Linked DNA regions of Homo sapiens. The protein of the gene in region 4 interacts with the protein of the main gene of each other region in a pairwise test. Each region holds a gene or a part of one and is shown on either strand. Other genes may lie near its edges.

Region 1 (4,583 bases), on a different chromosome or scaffold from region 4:
AAGGAGTCAAGGCCAGGTGGCTCATGTCTGTAATCCCAGTGCTTTGAGAAGCTGAGGCAGGAGCATCACTTGAGTTCAAGAGTTTGAGACCAGCCTGGGAAACCAAGCAAGACCCTGTGTCTCCAGAATATTTTAAGAATAATAATTAGCCAGGCATGGTGGTATGTAACTGTAGCCCTAGCTACTCTGGAGGCTGAGGTGGAAGGTTTGCTTGAGCCCAGGAGTTTGAGGCTACAGTGAGCCATGAATGCACCATTGCACTCTAGCCTGGGCAACAGAGCAAGACTCTATCTCTTCTTGTTTAAAAAAGAAAAAAAAAAAAAAGAGTCAAGAGATATTTTGCCGGTAGAATTAACCTGGAGAGAAAGGTGTCAGTGAAACCTCTGAGGTTTCAAGGATGGAAGGATGGTGATAATGTTACACAAGATGGAGCACACAGGAGAGAAGCAGTATTTGGGATTGGGAGGGGATGGGGTTGGCCTTCATTAACTGAATTGGTAGACTGTGGCCTTCAGAATTCCAGATGGACACTCGTGTGGAAATGCCTAGCAAAGCACCTAAAATTCACATCTAGGGCTCAGGAGAAAGAGCAAAATGGAAAAGATAGATGGGAATGTTATTTATAAAGCAATGAGGAAAGCAGCCAAGCCTTCCGAGAGAGGCCTGAGAGCAGGCCACTGAACACTCCGTATTTAGAGGAAAGACAGAGAAAAGGATCCAGTCAAGGAAAGTGAGAAAGGGTGGCCAGAAATGTAGGCAGAGATCTGGAAGACCACAGTGCCCTGGCAGCTGAAAGGGCCAACAACAAAAATATCAACGGCATCAAATGCTATAGTAATGCAGGTAGGAAGAGGACGAAGAGGAAACCAGAGAATTTGGCAATGAGAGGTCAGGGTGACCTTTCAGTAGCTGATGGTGAAAGAAGCTGTGTCAGTTCAGGTTTTTGAGAAGCGCCTAGCAAGACAGATTAGACACACAAGGAATTTATTGGGGAAATTCTTGTGAAGAAGGAAGCAAAAGGAAGCAGGAGGTGGCAAGGAGAGTCTGGAGACCATAACAGAGGTCCGACACCTGTGAGAGGAGAAGGCGAAGGAGGGATTGGTTGGAGGCACGTCAGGCTGCGGTGCACTTCTGAGAAGGCTGCAGTGAGGCTGATGGGGTATCCCTGAGCAAAGGATGCCTGTTAGGGAGATCCTGCATCGGGCGGGGACGGCCATGAGAAAAGCCCTGTCACGCTTGTCATTGGCTTGCAGCATCCCAGAGAACACATGCCTCCCTTCCTGCAGCAGATGCTCTTGGTTTTTTTGTTTTGGTTTGGGTTTTTTGTTTGTTTTGTTTTGTTTTGTTTTGTTTTGTTTGAGTCTTGCTCTGTCACCCAGGCTGGAGTGCAGTGGCATAATCTCAGCTCACTGCAACCTCCTCCTCCCGGGTTCAAGCGATTCTCCTGCCTCAGTGTCCCCAGTACTGGGACTACAGGCGCCCACCATCATGCTTGGCTAGTTTTTGTATTTTTAGTAGAGAGGGGGTTTTGCCATGTTGGCCTGGCTGGTCTTGAACTCCTGACCTCAGGTGATCCTTCCGCCTCGGCCTCCCGAAGTTCTAGGATTACAGGCATGAGGCACACCGTGCCCAGCCAGCAGATGCTCTTGAAGGAGACCTGAGGTTATGTTTGCGTGGCACCACAGAAGCCAGAGTGACCATAAGCAGGAAGTAGAAACACTAGAATTCTGGTCTAAGCTGCTGTCATCTCTATACACAGCATGGCTGAAACAGAAGAGCCACGCAGAAGTTAGCAGGTAGGCAGGGCCTGGTAAGAAGGCCATAAGCTGTGGCGCTTTCACCCAAAGCCATCATGAAGACCCATAACTAAGTGGCTGGCCAAGGTCACAAGGTTTCATAGAATTGCCAGGACGAGAGCCAGCTGTCCATCTTCGCTTGGCGTCCCTGGCTCTCTCCTCAAACCCTGTGCTCTCCCTGTACTTCCAATCACATGCGGGGTTTGGTCTATCACCGTTCGTACCCAGTGGACACTGATGCCTTTGATGTATGTTTTTCTTTCAACGATGGTGTGTTGAAGGATTCTGTTACCTCCATTCCTCCATTTCTGTACAAGTAAGTTAATACAAGTAAGTAAGTACTGTAGGAAAATGAGCTCCTCCCGCGCCCAGGGAGGAGGTAGGAGGACGATTCCACCTGTCTTTGTGGTGAGCGCTGAAGGAGGATCTTGAGAAAGGCACCTGTGTGCAGCGGCATTCTCATCTCTAAAGCCCGCATGGCTTCCCGTGTGCACACAGGACATTCTGCCCATGTTTACCAAATGAAGACACCAACTAACTACCCTGTCTTTCCTTCTAGGTGACCTCATACATTTGCCTCCATACCTTAGAATGGACTTTTTGTTAAACCGAGGTGGTCCAGGCACCAGCAGGGACCTGAGCTTAGGACAAGCATGCTTGGAACCTCAGAAAAGCCGGACCCTGAAGCGCCCCACGGTCCTGGAGCCCATCCCGATGGAAGCCGCCTCCTCCGCCTCCTCCACGAGAGAAGGACAGTCGTGGCAGCCGGGGGCCGTGGCCACATTACCTCAGCGGGAGGGAGCAGAGCTGGGACAGGCAGCTAAAATGAGCAGCTCCCAAGAATCACTGCTCGACTCCCGGGGCCATTTGAAAGGAAACAATCCTTACGCAAAATCTTACACCCTGGTATAACAGACAGCATGACTGGACAGCGGTTGTAAATACAATTCAAACAATTCAATCAAAGCTACCTTTTTTTTACGGAATTCCAATATTTATAATTAAAGAAAATTGCCAAAATATATTAAAAAAAAAAAAGAGAAAATACTGAAACCACAGACAGTGCAAAGACTCTCCTGCTTTTTTTCTGTCTGAGTGTGAGCTCCATCCGCCTGGGCATCTGATTTTTTGGGAAAGAAGTCCAGTTTTATGATCTTCACAGGCTATTGCATTTTTACTGATTTTCTACAAAAGTGCATGGGGGGGATTAATTAAACCTTCTGACTGGAAGTTCTATCACACAAGAGGCAAGAAAGAAAACAGGGTGGGTGGGAAATCAGCCTATTTGTGAATTTAAAAGGAACACCGATTTGCGGGCAGGGGAAAACTTCAGTCACGTTTGCACACCTTTCTTTCCCATTAGAAACCGGGTTCTCAATTTGGTCTTCTTTTGTTGTTAATTAGGATGAGTGCCGTCAGTGAAGGGGTGGGGGGAATCAATTTGGTTTTCTCTCTTGTTTCTTTTTTAATTTAATGAGACACTCTTTGCATTTTGTCTAAGCGAAATAAAAAAGAAAAGGTTGTCTGCCTTTATTTCCATGTCTGCTTCTCTCGTCTTCTGCCAGTGGCCTGGTCCTCCTTCCCATTGACACTTCTGTTTGGAAACACCAGGCCTGAACCCAGAGCCCAATTCAATAAACCAGAGTCGATACTAACACCCTGAACTCCTCAGGAATCTCCAGGAAGCACAAAGAAGGTGCAGCTCCTGCTCTCAAGCTGGAGAGGACAAAATGCAGGCTGGTCTCCACCGCAACCAGAGGCCAGCCCAAGTATTCGAAGCCCGTCGCAAAGCTCTGCCCCTTGCCTGCCCATGGCCAGAGTTCAACTGACTGTGGCCTATGGGCCAAATCCAGCCTCCTGCTGTTTTTTAAATAAAGTTTTATTGAAACAAGGCCACATGCACTATTTGCTATTGTCTATGGCTGCTTTCATGGCACAATGGTAGAGCTGAATAGTTGCAGCAGAGATGGTATAGCCCATGAAGCCTAAAATATTTATTACCTGGCCCATTACAGGAAACATTTGCCAGACCCGTGCTCTGGAGTCTGAAATGTAGCCCCAGCTTGCGTGACAAGGGGCAAGATCGTGCATCTTACCCTCCATGACTTTTCCTATCTCCACTATGCCTGGTATGCAAATTTGTGATAGACCATCTTAATAAACATTGCCTGAATCCTCTGTAACCAGAGGAAAGTGATGTTCCTCTAAAATCTAAGTTTTTACTTTCCTTTCCCTCACTTTATCTCCCATGTGGCTCATCCTAAGAGAGAATTTACTCATAAATAGTCGGAACTGCATTCTTTATCCCACAACCCTCACAGGGTTTGCTTTATGAAAGAGGATGTAATCCTCCCCTGGCTGCAACACTCCATTCCAGGCTCACTTCCATAAAATGGAAAGATAAACAGGTCTTTGTGTCAGAGATTTGGCATTAACCAGAAAACATGATCAAATATCCACAGCTGCTCAGTCTCCCAGGCTGAAGATTCTCTACAGGCTTCCATTAAGGCCACCAACATAGACTGGTGCCAGTTATTACCATCTTGGGAACATATTCAGAAATGTCTTTCCTTCCCTCCCTCCCTCCTTCTTTCCCATCCTTTCTTCCTTCTATTTATTTTCCAGGCAGGCCCATTTGTCTGCTTAGATTCAGTGACACAGAATGGGTCCAGGACCATGTCAAGACCACCTGCTGATGCTAGTGTTAGATGACTCCAGGAATGTGAGGTGTGCATCCATGGTTTCAGAATGTAATCCGTGTTGACGTGTACTGTTTGCATACTCTCA
Region 2 (4,583 bases), on a different chromosome or scaffold from region 4:
TTTTTTTTTTGAGACAGAGTCTTGCTCTGTCACCCAGGCTGGAGTGCAATGGCATGAGCTGGGCTCATTGCAAACTCTGCCTCCTGGGTTCAAGCGATTCTCCTACCTCAGCCTCCCAAGTAGCTGAAATTACAGGCACCCACCACCAGGCCCAGCCAATTTTTGTATTTTGGGTAGAGACCGGGTTTCACCATGTTGGCCAGTCTGGTCTGGAACTCCTGACCTCAGATGATCCACCCACCTTGGCCTCCCAAAATGCAGGGATTACAAGTGTGAGCCACCACGCCCGGCCTGAAATTGCTATTTTACCACATCTAATGGAATGTAAAAAGCTTACCGTCATGTAGGTTCCTCTGTTCTCTCCCATTTTTGTTACATTTATCTCATGTATTACATCTACATACATCTAATGCCCCATCAGACAAGGTTATAATTTTTGCATTTAATCATCAATCATATTTTAAAGAGCTCAAGGGAAGAACAGTCTATTGTATTTACTTAGGTCTTTACCAGTTCTGTTACTCTTCCTACATTCTTGAAGTTTCAAGTTTCAAGTTTCCCTCTGGTTTCATTTGAAGAATTTCCTTTAGCAATTCTTTTAGAGCAGGTTTGCTGGTGATGAATTCTAAGTGTCCTTCATCTGAGAATGTCTCGATTTAATCTTCTTTCCTGAAGGATATTTTCACTGCATATGGGATTCTGGGCTTTTTGTTATGGTTTTGTACTCCAAAAGAAAGCAGGAAAGAGAAAACAGAGGATAAAGATCAGCGAGAACAAACAGAAAACACATCCTAAAATGGTAGACCTCAACCCAACATTATGAACATCAACATTTTCCAGCAGTTTTTAAATTTTTTTCTTCTGGTCTCTAAGGTTTCTAATGAGAAACACACAGTTATTCAAGCTGTTGTTCCCTATATGTAGTGTACCATTTTTATCTGGTTCCATTCTACACCTTTTCTGTGTCATTAGCTTTTGGAAATGATGTTGTCTGGGTGTGGATTTCTTTGGGCTTACTTTGGAGTTCAGTGATCTTCTTTAATCTGTAGGTTTATGTTTTGGCAAGTTTGTGGAATATTCAATCATTCTTTCTTCAATTTTTTTTTTTTGCACTGCACCCTTTTTCCTCTAATTCTTTGACTGTGATGATAGTAATGTTAGCTATTTGGGCATTATCTTACAGGTCTCTGAAGCTCCGTTCATTTTTTTTTCTAATCTTTTTTTCTCCTCTATTGTCCAGATCAGATAATTTCTATTGATCTATCTTGAAGTTCACTGGCTCTTTCTTATCATCTCATCTCCATTCTGCTATTGATTTCACCTAGTGAGTTTTTATTTCACTTATTATACTTTTTAGTTCTAAAATTTCCTTTTGGTTCTTCTTAATAACTCTATTTATTTGCTAAGACTTTCTATTTTTCTATTATTCCTAAAAGTATATTCACTCTTACTTTCCTTTTCTCTTTTTCCTTCTTGCCGTCAGTGACAGAACACCCATACTTCTTGGAGTCTTTTTACATTGATTACCATAAAAACTCTGTTAATAATTCCTACATCTATAGGATCTCAGTTTAGGCATCTGTTGAATATCTTTCCTCAAGGGAGTTTTTCTTCTGCTTCTTTTTAGGCTGAGTGATTTTGTATTGTATGCTGAGAAATTTGGGGTTGTATCCTGGACATTTAAAATATCTAAATACGTGAGATTCTGGGTTTGTCTAAATCTGTTGGGTCAGTGGTACTTCAAATTCTGGTCTTCTTGCTCAGTCTGCTGCTACCATTTACTTTTCAGTCTGCAAATAACTGCAGAATTCATTCTGTCCAGGTTTTATAGCTACATTCAGTAGGAAAAACTGGATGGAGTGTGCTTCCTTCATCTTACCTGAAACCAGAACCTGTCTTGATAGGCAAATTAACAAATTAGGCCAATAATTTTAAAAAGTTAAGGCTGTAATTTTTATATGATAAATTGATATTATATATTTATAAATATTATATATTGATAAATTCTTATAAATTTTTTACTACTCTACCACAGTTATATTACTGAACATTATTTTTTTCTTCTTTTTTTTTTGGAGACAGAGTCTCTGTTGCCCAGGCTGGAGTGCAGTGGCGTGATCTCAGCTCACTGCAACTTCTGCCTCCCGGGTTGAAGCCATTCTCCTGCCTCAGCATCCTGAGTAGCTGGGACTACAGGCTTGCACCACCATGCCAAGCTAATTTTTGTATTTTTAGTAGAGACAGAGTTTTGCCATGTCGGCCAGGCTGGTCTCAAACTCCTGGCCTCAAGTGATCCTTCCACCTCAGCCTCCCAAAGTGCTGGGATAATAGGCATGAGCCACCGTGCCCGGCCTTGAACATTATTTTTTTCATCACTGCCAGATACCTGGCTCTTTGGCTGTATTATACTTTCCTGTCTCCTCTGTTCTATTTCCCATTCTGCCCGTTGATTGTCAGTTGCCCATTGTCTTTTTTCAGCTGAGACAAGGTTGGAATTTTCCAAAAGGAACTTTATGAAGGAGATGGGATGATACATACAACTGTATTGATTTGGGGAATGACGATAATTTCAGCTGTGTACAGCACCGCCCTGTCTGTGAAGCCCTTGCACGTCCTTCTCATGTGATCCTCAAATGACCCCTTTGAGACAATCAGATCCAGTTTATTGATCCCATTTCACAGTTGAGGTAACTGGACTTTTAGATGTCTGATATGATCTTCTCAAGGTCTCTCAGTTTCGGAAAGGCAGAGCCAGGACCAGGTGGATTTCCTAGCCACAAATCCAATGTACTTACTGCAGTTTTGTGCTTTAGTTTGACAACTAAGGATTTAATGATTTTGTGATTTCGCTAATCCAGTTTACAAAGCATTGTCCTATGCATTTTCCGTGGCCCGAGGTGGTCTTAGGTGAACATGCTTCCTGCAAGATCTTTGGATCTTAGCTTTAGTGAGGTGTGGATGGCACCCGCAATCTGGTAGCGTTCCTCCCAGGCTATAGTTTATTTCAATTTCCTTGAGGTTTTATTAAATACCTAGTACATTTCTGGCACAGCCCCCAAGCAAGCCTAGGAGACAGAAGGATGAATAAGACCGTTCCTAGACTCCTGGCCTCTATGGGCCCCAGTTAAATATCTGGACCTTCCTGGCCACCAAGGGGCCTGCAGAAGGCTTTGGGGAGAAGTGTCTTGAGCTTATGGAGTTCTCCTTTCCCTACAGTCCTCCGGGCCTCATATGAACAGGAGAAAGAAGCGCTTACCCACTCTTTCCGGGAGGCCAGTTCTACCCAGCAGGTGAGAGGGGCTGGGTCGTGTCAGTCTTGGATAAGGGTAAGTGAGGACCAATGGGAAAGCAGCATGGAGCCCCAAGGCAGCCAAAACTGATTACGTGTGCCTAGGAGTGAGGGGCTGAGGTGATTGCCTTCTGTGTATCCAGGCCCCTTGATGTAGTAACCAGGCTATTAGCTCAAGAGGACTGAGTGTGAAATTGAGTTGGGCCTATTTTTCCAGGGACTGCTGGGGAGATCTTGGAGAGGCATGGGCCAAGTGCCACAGTGTGATTAGATTCATGGGTGGATGCACAGGGACCTGTGGAAGGATGCAGGGAAGCATCTGACTCAATGTGGCTGTGCAGGAAAGATTTCCTAGAGGGAGTGAGATCTAAGCTGGAGTCTGAAGGATGGGTTGGAATTCTTTGGTAAAGAAGGGTAGGAAGGGTGCCTCAGGCAGAAAAAAAGCAATGTGTTCAAAGACATGGAGGAAAAAGGAAAAATATGGAATACCTGAGGAACCGAAAGATGTCCAGGATGCCTGGGGTATGAGTTTCAGTGGGAGAGGGGACTAAGGCTAAGAACGTGAGCAAGGGCCAGAGTGGAAGCCAGTGAGCCACCTTAAGGGGTTGTGCTCTAGCCTAACGGTAGTGGTCACGGTTCAAGTAGAGAAAGTTCTTGGCAGTGAAACAGTTTGGAGATAAGAATGTACCCTGCAGCTGGGGGACTATTGTGATGTTTGGCTGCAGGAGAGGATGTATAGAAGGAGCAGTGAGAGGTGAGCTTGGAAAAATTCATTGAGCCTGGTTTGGATGTGTTTTGAATGCCAGGCTAACAACCATCTTTTATAGCAGGACATTGTTCCCTGCAGTATGGGGAGCCGTTAAAGGCATTAAAGCAAGAGGTGGGGTTGGTATGTTCCTTTCATCTCCTCTCCTTCTCCCTCTCCTTCTCCTTCTCCCTCCCTCTCCTTCTCCTTCTCTGTCCCCCTCCCTTCCCCTCCCTATCTCCCTCCCCCTCCCGTCCCCCTCCCCTCCCCTCCCGTCTTCTTTTCTTTCCTCTTTTCTTTTCTCTTCTTTCTTTCTCTTCCCAGCATGCAATTCTGCACTGTAAGGGCTGGTAGATCTCAAGCAGTGGTCGAAGTATGTTGATGTTGCATTGTCATGTAGAGTAGCCAAAGACAGATTGAAGAACCCAAAACCGTTCTCCCTCTGGGATGTGGCGAAGTTCACCTACAGCATTTATGAGGCAGGCTTTGATTGTCTCCATCCCACTCCCTGCTCCAGGAGACCATAGACAGACTGACCTCACAGCTGGA
Region 3 (3,362 bases), on a different chromosome or scaffold from region 4:
CTAGTGTAAAAATCCATCTATTGAAATGACAGTTGAGTAATCTGCACTATTTTTAATTAGTTTACTATTTTGTAAAGTTTGTTATTTTCTGATATTTATAGAAATAGTTTTGCTAATTAAGTGTTTGATATTACACATATAGAATATAGCATATACATATTATAACAGGCTGCTTTTCAAATCTCTAACTGGAGAACTTCCATTTATAGGTATACATTTCATTTATACTAGTTTTCAAAGTGTAGCAACTAATGTAAACCAAGAAAACACATAAGGATTTATGCGGTTGAAAAGCATAACCTGCCATCTTAATCAATTTTCAAATTAATCAACTACCATTTTTATGCTGATATTTTTCTTTACAAGCAGAACCTACTTTGGGACACCATGAAAACCCCTTCAAAGAGTCACCATTATGAGATAATAGGTGACATGATCCTAATGTGTTTTCTCTCATTCTTAACTGTATTATATTGCCATTCTGTAATAACCAAAATCTTTCTTTTTCCAACCTCTCTATAATGAAGAAATTATAATCAAAAACTAGTAAATATCTATTTTAGAAAATCATAGTAAATGCTTGGGTATTTATGTTTTTTAAAAAGAGTCTTTTAGTCCTAAATCTAGTATAAATATGAGAGGGAAACTTCTTGAACAAAATAACTTTCATATATATATATATATATATATATATATATATATATATTTTTTTTTTTTTTTTTTTTTTTTTTTTTTTTTTGAGACAAGGTCTTGCTCTGTCACCCAGGCTGGAGTGGAAGGGTGCGATCTCAGCTCACTGCGACCTCTGCCTCCTGGGTTCAAGCAATTCTCGTGCCTCAGCCTCTTGAGTAGCTGGGATTACAGGCATGCAGCACCACACCCAGCTTATTTTTGTATCTTCAGTAAAGACGGGTTTTTGCCGTGTTGGCCAGGCTGGTCTCAAACTCCTGGCCTCAAGCAATCCATCTGCCTTGGCCTCTCAAAGTGCTGGGATTATAGGCGTGAGCCACTGCACCCAGCTGCTTTCCTCTTACAACTTTTTAAAGCTGTATTCTTTCTTTCACAATTCATAATTGAGTGAAAGGAAAAAGATTTGATTTTTTTTTCCTCACAAATATAAGGCATATAATATTCTTAGAAAATTTCAAGCCTTACTATTGAGATAACCCTTACAAATTTAAACATTTTTAGCTGCTTTATTGGCTTTAAATGATTAAGTTCATAATTGCAAGTCATCTGGTTTCTAAACTGCTAGCCTTATTAGTTCCAAAGTATTGTTGATGCTTTTGTTTCAATATCCCCCCAAAAAACAAAAACTAAAAAAAAAAGTACCACTTATTTATGCTTTGAAACTAGCTGAATGTTGTTAATGATATAAAATGATGCTTTAACAAATGGAACAATATTTGGGGCCCTCCTTAAAAGCGAATAGTATTATACATATACATGATATATTCTTTTTAGTGAAAATGTAGTAAATGGTACAGTAATTAAATTTGATAAAAAGAATAATGTATTCTAGTACATAAGTTCGTAATAAAGTATCAATTGTGATATATTGATAAAAGCTTTTGGTCCTAAAAGTAAAGCTGAAATTGTTTATCATCAGACTGTTACTCTGATAATAGGTAACTTGAATCAAGTTGAGTTGTGAAAAAAGGTAAGAATGTCAACTGAGAATAAATAAATACTGGTACAAATATTCTGATTCTGCAGTGATATATCAAGGAGTAAATACCCCTGGACAACCAGTCTTCCTGGAGGGGCAGCAACAGGTTTAAAAAGTTTATATCCCACTGGATATTCTACTTTCCGTTCCATTCCTCTTACATGAAAATGCACCTTGCATGTAAAGCTTGACTTTCTCATTTGCTTTTAATTGTACCCCTTAGCAGCTCATGGCATACAGTGCTTATGCCATGAACAAGGAAGGCCAAATTATTCAAGGATATTAAGTAATGTAGAAACTAAGTTTTGTCAGAAAGCTACATACCATACCACAAGTCTCCATGAATAAAGCCAGAAAGCTACATTTGAAGATGATCTCGTTTTATATAATAAGACTATCAAAACTTGGGTATCAATATTTCTTTAATATTTTCATTTTTTAAATGTAGAGAGACTTTTTTAAAGATAGTTGACAGCATAGTTTCCTTACATTCATGATGCAATTCAGAGAACTGAACATTTCAAACATTTTTTTTGATGTTCTGAGCATTTTTTATGGAAAGAGGATACAAAAATAGATCCAATATTTAGAGGCTGGGCGTGATGGTTCTCGCCTATAATCCCAGCACTTTGGGAGGCTGAGGTAGGTGGATCGCTTGATCCCAGGAGTCCAAGATCAGATTGGGCAACATGGCAAACTCCCATCTCTACAAAAAGTACAAAACTTAGCCAGGTGTGGTGGCACATGCCTATAGTCCTAGCTACTTGGAGAGCTGAGGCAGGAGGATCACTTGAATCTGGAAGGTCGAGGAGGCTTCAGTGAGCCAAGATCTCCAGCTTAGGTGACAAAGTGAGACTTTGTCTCAAAAAAATAAAAAATAAAAAAAATAAATTGGGAAACTTACATATTTAAAATATTCCCATTACAAATTCACAAGTAGAATATCTGTAACCCATCTATCTGTTGAAGATTTTGGACATTTTCATGGGGACTCAAATTATTTCACGTTTATGAACTTAAAAGGAAAGAAAATTCCAGGCTCTATTACAAAATGTATCAAGCAATAAATGAGTACTATCATATATATGTGATTCACCCCCATTTGGAATTGCAAATTAAGAGTTTTTTGCAGCTGGGTATGCAACCTGATAAAAACCCTGATAATGTAGATCTATGCCTGAGTTTACAATATTTGTTTTGTGAGTTTCCAGAGATAATAACAGCTTTCAAAAGAGGAAAAAAGTAAGGTTCTTTTTTGAAAGCTTTGTAGATTGTATATAGAATAGCTTTGTAACATAAGGTTTTGTGTCTATTTAGATCAGTCATATATATTCCATGCAGAATACAATATTATAGAATACACTAGTCTAATATTTGTACTTGATAATTTTGCCTTTTAGAATTTCAACATATATATATGTACACTAACACTTTGTCTATTGTCTATGTTTTTCTTTTGTTGAAAAACACGATATATATATGTTGTAGGGTTTTGGTTTTTGTATTTGTTTTAAGCTAATGGTTTGGAAGCTCTTACCATAGATATTCACTATACAATCAGAATGACTTTGCCACCTATTCAGGCAAAGTAGTTGTGCATATTAATAAATGTTTTACATATTAATGATCCTTTTGACGTGACTGGATCCCCACCCTTCATTTCATGTGCTTCTATTTTCCTACATCTTTTACA
Region 4 (5,667 bases):
GTCAGAACAAGTTCAAGACAGATGTTATGTGTATATATTTGGGAGGAAGAAATTTTCTAACTCCATCCTCCCTTTTGTTCCTTCATCCATAGAGCCTCTTGTGCTCTGATGGATCAGTTTAAATGCTACAGCCGATACTTGAGAAATGTTGCATGCACATGAGCGTGTTGTGTGTGTTGCACAGTCCACAGGTGAGGAGGAGGAGAAGTCCACAGGAGAAGGAAATGGGATCTAAACTCTGAGCACCTGCTGTGTTCTTTGTATTAAAAAATTCCACTTTGATGGTGGGGTCTCATTCCTTCATTCTTTCAGTAGATTTTTATTGGCCACCTATTTCTCATGTGTCCAGTTATGTGCGGGATGCCAGGAAAGTAGTGAGCACAAAAGATGCAGTCCCTGTCTTTCTGGCAATTATGGTCTGATAGCTTTGATAACTGCTGGTTAATTGAGATAGTCTATTATATAGTCAGAGTGTGTACATGAAAGCTGGTCCTGTGTGAAGAGCAGTACCCCCTACCTAAAGTGTGCTTCAAAGGCATGTGCTGAAGAAACCAGTCCCACACTGTGAAGATGATGATAAAAACCAACGTGTATCACCACGTGCCTGGCAAAGAACTTCCTTTGCCTTCTTTCCCCCACTCTTCCTTCTACATAGGAAGTAATTTCCTGTGAGGCAGCCAGATTCACAGGGAAATTACCTCCAACCTGGTGCCAGTCACTGGGCCAGCCTCGGGTTAAGACACTTTCTCTGGGTCTCAGTGTCTTTGACTTTAAAATGAGGAGTTAGGCCATTGATAGTAAGTGTCCCAAGGAGCCAGTGGTTTCAGAGCTGGTTTATACTAGCATTTGTGCATATCTCTTCCTAACTCCGTGTTCAGTGGCAACACATTTTTTAGATTGAAATAAGCCATGGTGGGAATAATAACACCATGGAAATTGGCAAATGCTACATCAGAGCTTTTTTTTCCTCTTGGAGTTCAAGTTGTTAAACCTTTGCCAGCTGACACTGCTATTGTCTGAGCCAAGGTGCTTTTGGTTTGTTTTTTTAGTAGAAAACAGACTCTTTAGCCTAGACAAAGATCCTAGATATAGGGTGTATGATTCAAGTCCTCTAAAATTTTTGATAAGGAAAAAAATCTGTTTTCATCATATTCTAAAATATAGATCAGCAAACTTTTTGTGTAAAGGGACAGGTAGTGAAATATTTTAGGCTTTTTGGGTTATGGTTATACAGTTTCTATTGCAGCTACTCAGCTCTGGTGTTGAAGCACGAAAGCGGCAATAGACAACATGCAAACAAACAAGCATGGCTGTGTTCCAGTCAAACTTGATTTACAAAAACAAGGGCCAGCCATAGTTTGCAGACTCCTGACCTAGACTATCAGAACAAGAACCATGTTTCAAAGAGAGAGTTTTATGGAAAAGGAGATTCTTCAGGACTTTATGCGTGAATACCAGAAACTTGAGTCTCCAAGATGGACGTAGCGGGCAGTAGTAACTGTAGAGGATTTGGAATCAATCATGGAAGACTCCATAGTAGGTTGTTTAAAGGAAGGCCAAGTGTGTTGAAGTTTTGAGGACAGAGCCACATATGGGTCTTATTCCCAACTCCCTCCCTGGAGCCATCTCAGATGTTATGCTAGAATGGATGTACCTGCAGTCTAACCCGTTGTGTGAATTTTGCATATTATTATGCAAAAACTAGTAGTGTCTCTAAGAGCTGTCTTGATTCCAGGGGCAGAGACAAAGGAAATGTTAAAAAGGATGGAAAGGCCCAGGCACCGTGGCTTACGCCTGTAATCCCAGCACTTTGAGAGTCCAGATCGCTTGAGCCCAGGAGTTCAAGACCAACCTGGGCAACATGACAAAACCCCATCTCTACCAAAAATACAGAAAAAAATTAAAGCCAGGTGTGATGGCACATATCTGTAGTCCCAGCTACTTGGGAGGCAGAGGCAGGAAGATCACCTGGGAAGTCCAGGCTGCAGTGAGCCATGATTGCATCACGGCACTCCAGCCTGGGCAATAGAGTAAGACCCTGTCTCAAAAAAAAAAAATCCTCGTTATATATGTATATGATACATTGTAGAGTACACTGTGTGTGTATACCTGTGTGTATGCATATTTGTACATCTATGTGTACATAAGTTGTGTGCATGTGTCATTACATATTCCATTCCATGTATTTAAAGTAGCATCATGAATGTTTAGAAGATAGACCAGTAGCCAGTTCTGGGCAGTGGAATGAGGTAGAAGGAAGCCAGAGAACTTTTGTTACTTTTCATAATAACAGATGTGTGCCTATCTTATAAGGGAGGATAGCCTGTAGCATTCATATATTGCTTTTACAACATAGTAAACCTAAAATCCCAACAACGTATACTTTCGGAAGGAAAATAGAGTTATTTCTCTGATAGGAATGTTGCCACCATCCTCCTCCCCCAATTAAAAAAAACTGCTTTGTCATATCACAGCTCTGAACTTGTATATATAATATTAGTATAAAAATAAGAGAGAGACTCTCAAGTCAAAACATTTTATTTAACAGTATTAATGTTTGACTCTTGTCCAGGGTTAGTAATACTAGTTCAAAGTGTTCCTTAGCAAGCTATTGTGCAGCCTTTACACTGGTGTTACAAAATAGTGTTGTATAGTTTTTAAACTAAAAAAAGCATGTTACACAGCAGTATTTCCCTGTGATTCTGTATTTCTGAGGAGAGAAAGCATGTGCATATATGTACGAGTGTGCCCCTGCATGTACAAAGGCAGCGGATATGCCAAAACATTGAGTGCTTTTCTCTAGGTGATACAGCACACTTGCTTTTTAGATTTTCTTCATTTTAGCTTATCGGGGTTTTCAAGCATGAATAAATATTACATTTGACATTACCAAAATCAACCCCTACAGTATGTTTACACCTGGTATGTTGAGGACAGTTCTTCCATCTTTCTTAGGCTGTCTTACCACCAGCTTACCTGGTGGCAGACTCCAGCTACTGTCTCCCAGTGAGAAATGTGAGGAGTGTGAGGCATGGCGAACCGAAAAACAGGCACACTTACCATGTAGTCACATTGTGCTGTGTCTGCTTCCCCTGTAGAGTCTGTCTGACCTTGGCCTCGCCCTCTCACTTCAGTTGACTGGCACCATCAGCTGACCGTCTCCCTAGATCGACTGGCCTTCATTTCTTTTTTTTTTTTTTTCCTTTTCTCTATTTTTAATGGAAAATCTCAGACATACAAAGTGGGGAGGAGAGTATAAACCCTCAGCCTCAACGACTGTGAACAGTGATAATTGGCCAATTTTGTTTCCTCTATACTTTTTTTTTTTTTTTTGAGACAGCGTCTCACTCTGTCACACAGGCTAGAGTGCAGTGGTGCAACCTCAGCTCACTCCAACCTCCACCTCCCGGGTTCAAGCAATTCTTCTGTCTCAGCCTCAGAATAGCTGGAATTACAGGCGTGCGCCACCACGCCCAGCCGATTTTTGTATTTTCAGTAGAGATGGGGTTTCACCATGTTGGCCAGGTTGGTCTCGAATTCCTTACTTCAGGTGATCCGCCTGCCTCAGCCTCCTGAAGTGCTGGGATTACAGGCATGAGCCACTGCGCCTGGCTCTTCCCTTATACTTTTCTTCAACATCACCTCTTTTTCTTTCTGGCAAGAGTTGGCATCTTCATTTGCAGCTGTATAAATTAACGAGAATCACTTATTAGGTCTTTTAGGAATAAGCATGTATTGACTGCTGTAGCAAAAATCTTAAAACTGTTCTGCCCTAATGTCAGCCATACTGAACTGCTGAGGAGCCCCTGAACACTTGCTGCGCTATCCTGTTTCTCTACTTTGGTATTTGCTCTTTACTCTGCCTGTGCATCTGAATTCATCTTCCACTTCGTAGTTCTCTGTAAAGCCTTTCTTGAATCCCACTTGTAGCTGTCTCTTTCCTTTGACTTTTCTTATAACCCTCATCCTATTGTATTTGTGTGCTTATCTTAGTCTCCTTGTCAGATTGCAGTCTTCAAATAAGAGAAGGAATGTGTGCCTATCTTCTTTTCCTCTATGGTATTTAGCAATGCGTAATACAAAGAAGATACTCAAGAAATACATGCTAAAATAATTTGAATTGATTAAGTTCACTGGAGAAAAATTTTGAGTATAAAAGAAATCCATCACATTAAAAGAAAAATTTTCAAATATGACCTAGGACCAAGAACATTTTCTTTCATCTGTTTGGATTTTAAAAGATTTTAAAGAATCATGGTGAAAAGAGTCTTAAATTTGAGCCATGAAAAGAGTCTTAAATTCGAGCCAATATAAAAACGTAGCTTTCTAAAAAGAAAATGTTTTTAATGATCTTTTGTCATTTTTTCACAAATATATCTGGAGCCTGTGGGTCTTCTCTAATCATACAATGCATCCCCTCACCTCCCCCCACCAGGCGAAAGACCTGAAAAAATACAACTGAATAATATTGGGTCACTTGTATTGGATAAGAGTGATTCTTGACTATATTTTAAATACTTGTTTTAGAATGTATATTTAAATCTTCAGTAAAAGAAACAGGCTACATTTAGAGCTTACCATAGGTAAGTCAATAGCAATCTCATGAATTATGGTAGCTCACGGGGATATAGTTCCCAGAATATGCAGTGCTTTCGTGTGTTACCTCATTTAATTATCCTAGCAGCCCTTGTCATCTGGGCAGAGCAGTGCAGACAGACATTGTTACCTAAAATCTGCAAAGAAGTAAACTAAGGTTTAAGAATATAGAAGAAATCTTGTCCTCAGCAGCAAGTGGCAGAGACTGACTTTAAGAATCAATTGGAAACCAAGAGTCTTTGGGATTAGATGTTGCAAATATGTGAAGACGCAAAAGCATCTAAGCATGTCTTTGGGAGACGGAACAGGTTCTTGTGCCCCTTAATGCCATAGACCTATTGAAACAATATCACACTCTCTGAGCCAGTTGTTCCTCAGATTCCTCATGTTCTGCTGTTATCTTTGGTGTCAAAAATTAATCCACCTTAGATGAATTAGTAAGGCTGTTTGTACATGAGTGCTGGTGTGGTTCTCTCTCATCCTCTTGTCTTGATCTAAGGAGAACCCTGGGCAAGCCCATCTTTGGATAGTGTAACTTGTCTGGGCCACTGCTCGCAAAACAGACATGTATGGAACACTTAATTATTCAACATCCTTGTCATCCTTTCTATAACTGCTATTGTGGAATTACATGGCAAGTTGCAAGTTGTGGCATAGTTCATGAAGAAGAGGTGTCAGTCTAGGAAAGTATCCTCCTACATGATTACCAGGTTTGAATTTTTGGTTCAGAACAGATAAGATAAATAAGCCATTGCCAAGAATCTGCGATGTACAAGAGCTATGATGGGTGGACATTTGAAAGGTACAATTTTGTATTAACGGCAGAATCAAAAGTAGCCTCAGGATTGGTTTTAAGGATGTTATGTTTCATAAACCCTTATTTTCTTAGATAAGAAATCAGTCTAAGTGCTAATAATGCCTATATTATTTACATCAACCCATTCTTTAAAAGTTACCATACAAATTTTGCCAAAATCAAGGATGTTTTAGGGAACATGAGGTTTACCATCTCGTCCCCATATATGTGCTTTAGAGCTTGGAGATTGTTTTAAAATGAGATTTATTTTTTTT

Evidence for each region.
Region 1: the proteins of ACO1 (region 4) and DSCAM interact in a two-hybrid assay, tested with the Homo sapiens proteins (one large-scale study listed by BioGRID and IntAct).
Region 2: the proteins of ACO1 (region 4) and CCDC69 interact in a two-hybrid assay, tested with the Homo sapiens proteins (one large-scale study listed by BioGRID and IntAct).
Region 3: the proteins of ACO1 (region 4) and MYBPC1 interact in a two-hybrid assay, tested with the Homo sapiens proteins (one large-scale study listed by BioGRID and IntAct).

The regions. Positions count from the first base shown.
Region 1 is NC_000021.9:40,011,159-40,015,741, reverse strand, and holds part of DSCAM (cell adhesion molecule DSCAM isoform CHD2-42 precursor), read left to right. Parts: intron 1-2,355; coding exon 2,356-2,708; 3' UTR 2,709-4,583. UniProt on the Homo sapiens protein: Cell adhesion molecule that plays a role in neuronal self-avoidance. Promotes repulsion between specific neuronal processes of either the same cell or the same subtype of cells.
Region 2 is NC_000005.10:151,186,093-151,190,675, reverse strand, and holds part of CCDC69 (coiled-coil domain-containing protein 69), read left to right. Parts: intron 1-3,216; coding exon 3,217-3,290; intron 3,291-4,551; coding exon 4,552-4,583. UniProt on the Homo sapiens protein: May act as a scaffold to regulate the recruitment and assembly of spindle midzone components. Required for the localization of AURKB and PLK1 to the spindle midzone.
Region 3 is NC_000012.12:101,680,888-101,684,249, forward strand, and holds part of MYBPC1 (myosin-binding protein C, slow-type), read left to right. Parts: intron 1-1,716; coding exon 1,717-1,775; intron 1,776-3,362. UniProt on the Homo sapiens protein: Thick filament-associated protein located in the crossbridge region of vertebrate striated muscle a bands. Slow skeletal protein that binds to both myosin and actin.
Region 4 is NC_000009.12:32,386,484-32,392,150, forward strand, and holds part of ACO1 (cytoplasmic aconitate hydratase), read left to right. Parts: intron 1-5,667. UniProt on the Homo sapiens protein: Bifunctional iron sensor that switches between 2 activities depending on iron availability. Iron deprivation, promotes its mRNA binding activity through which it regulates the expression of genes involved in iron uptake, sequestration and utilization.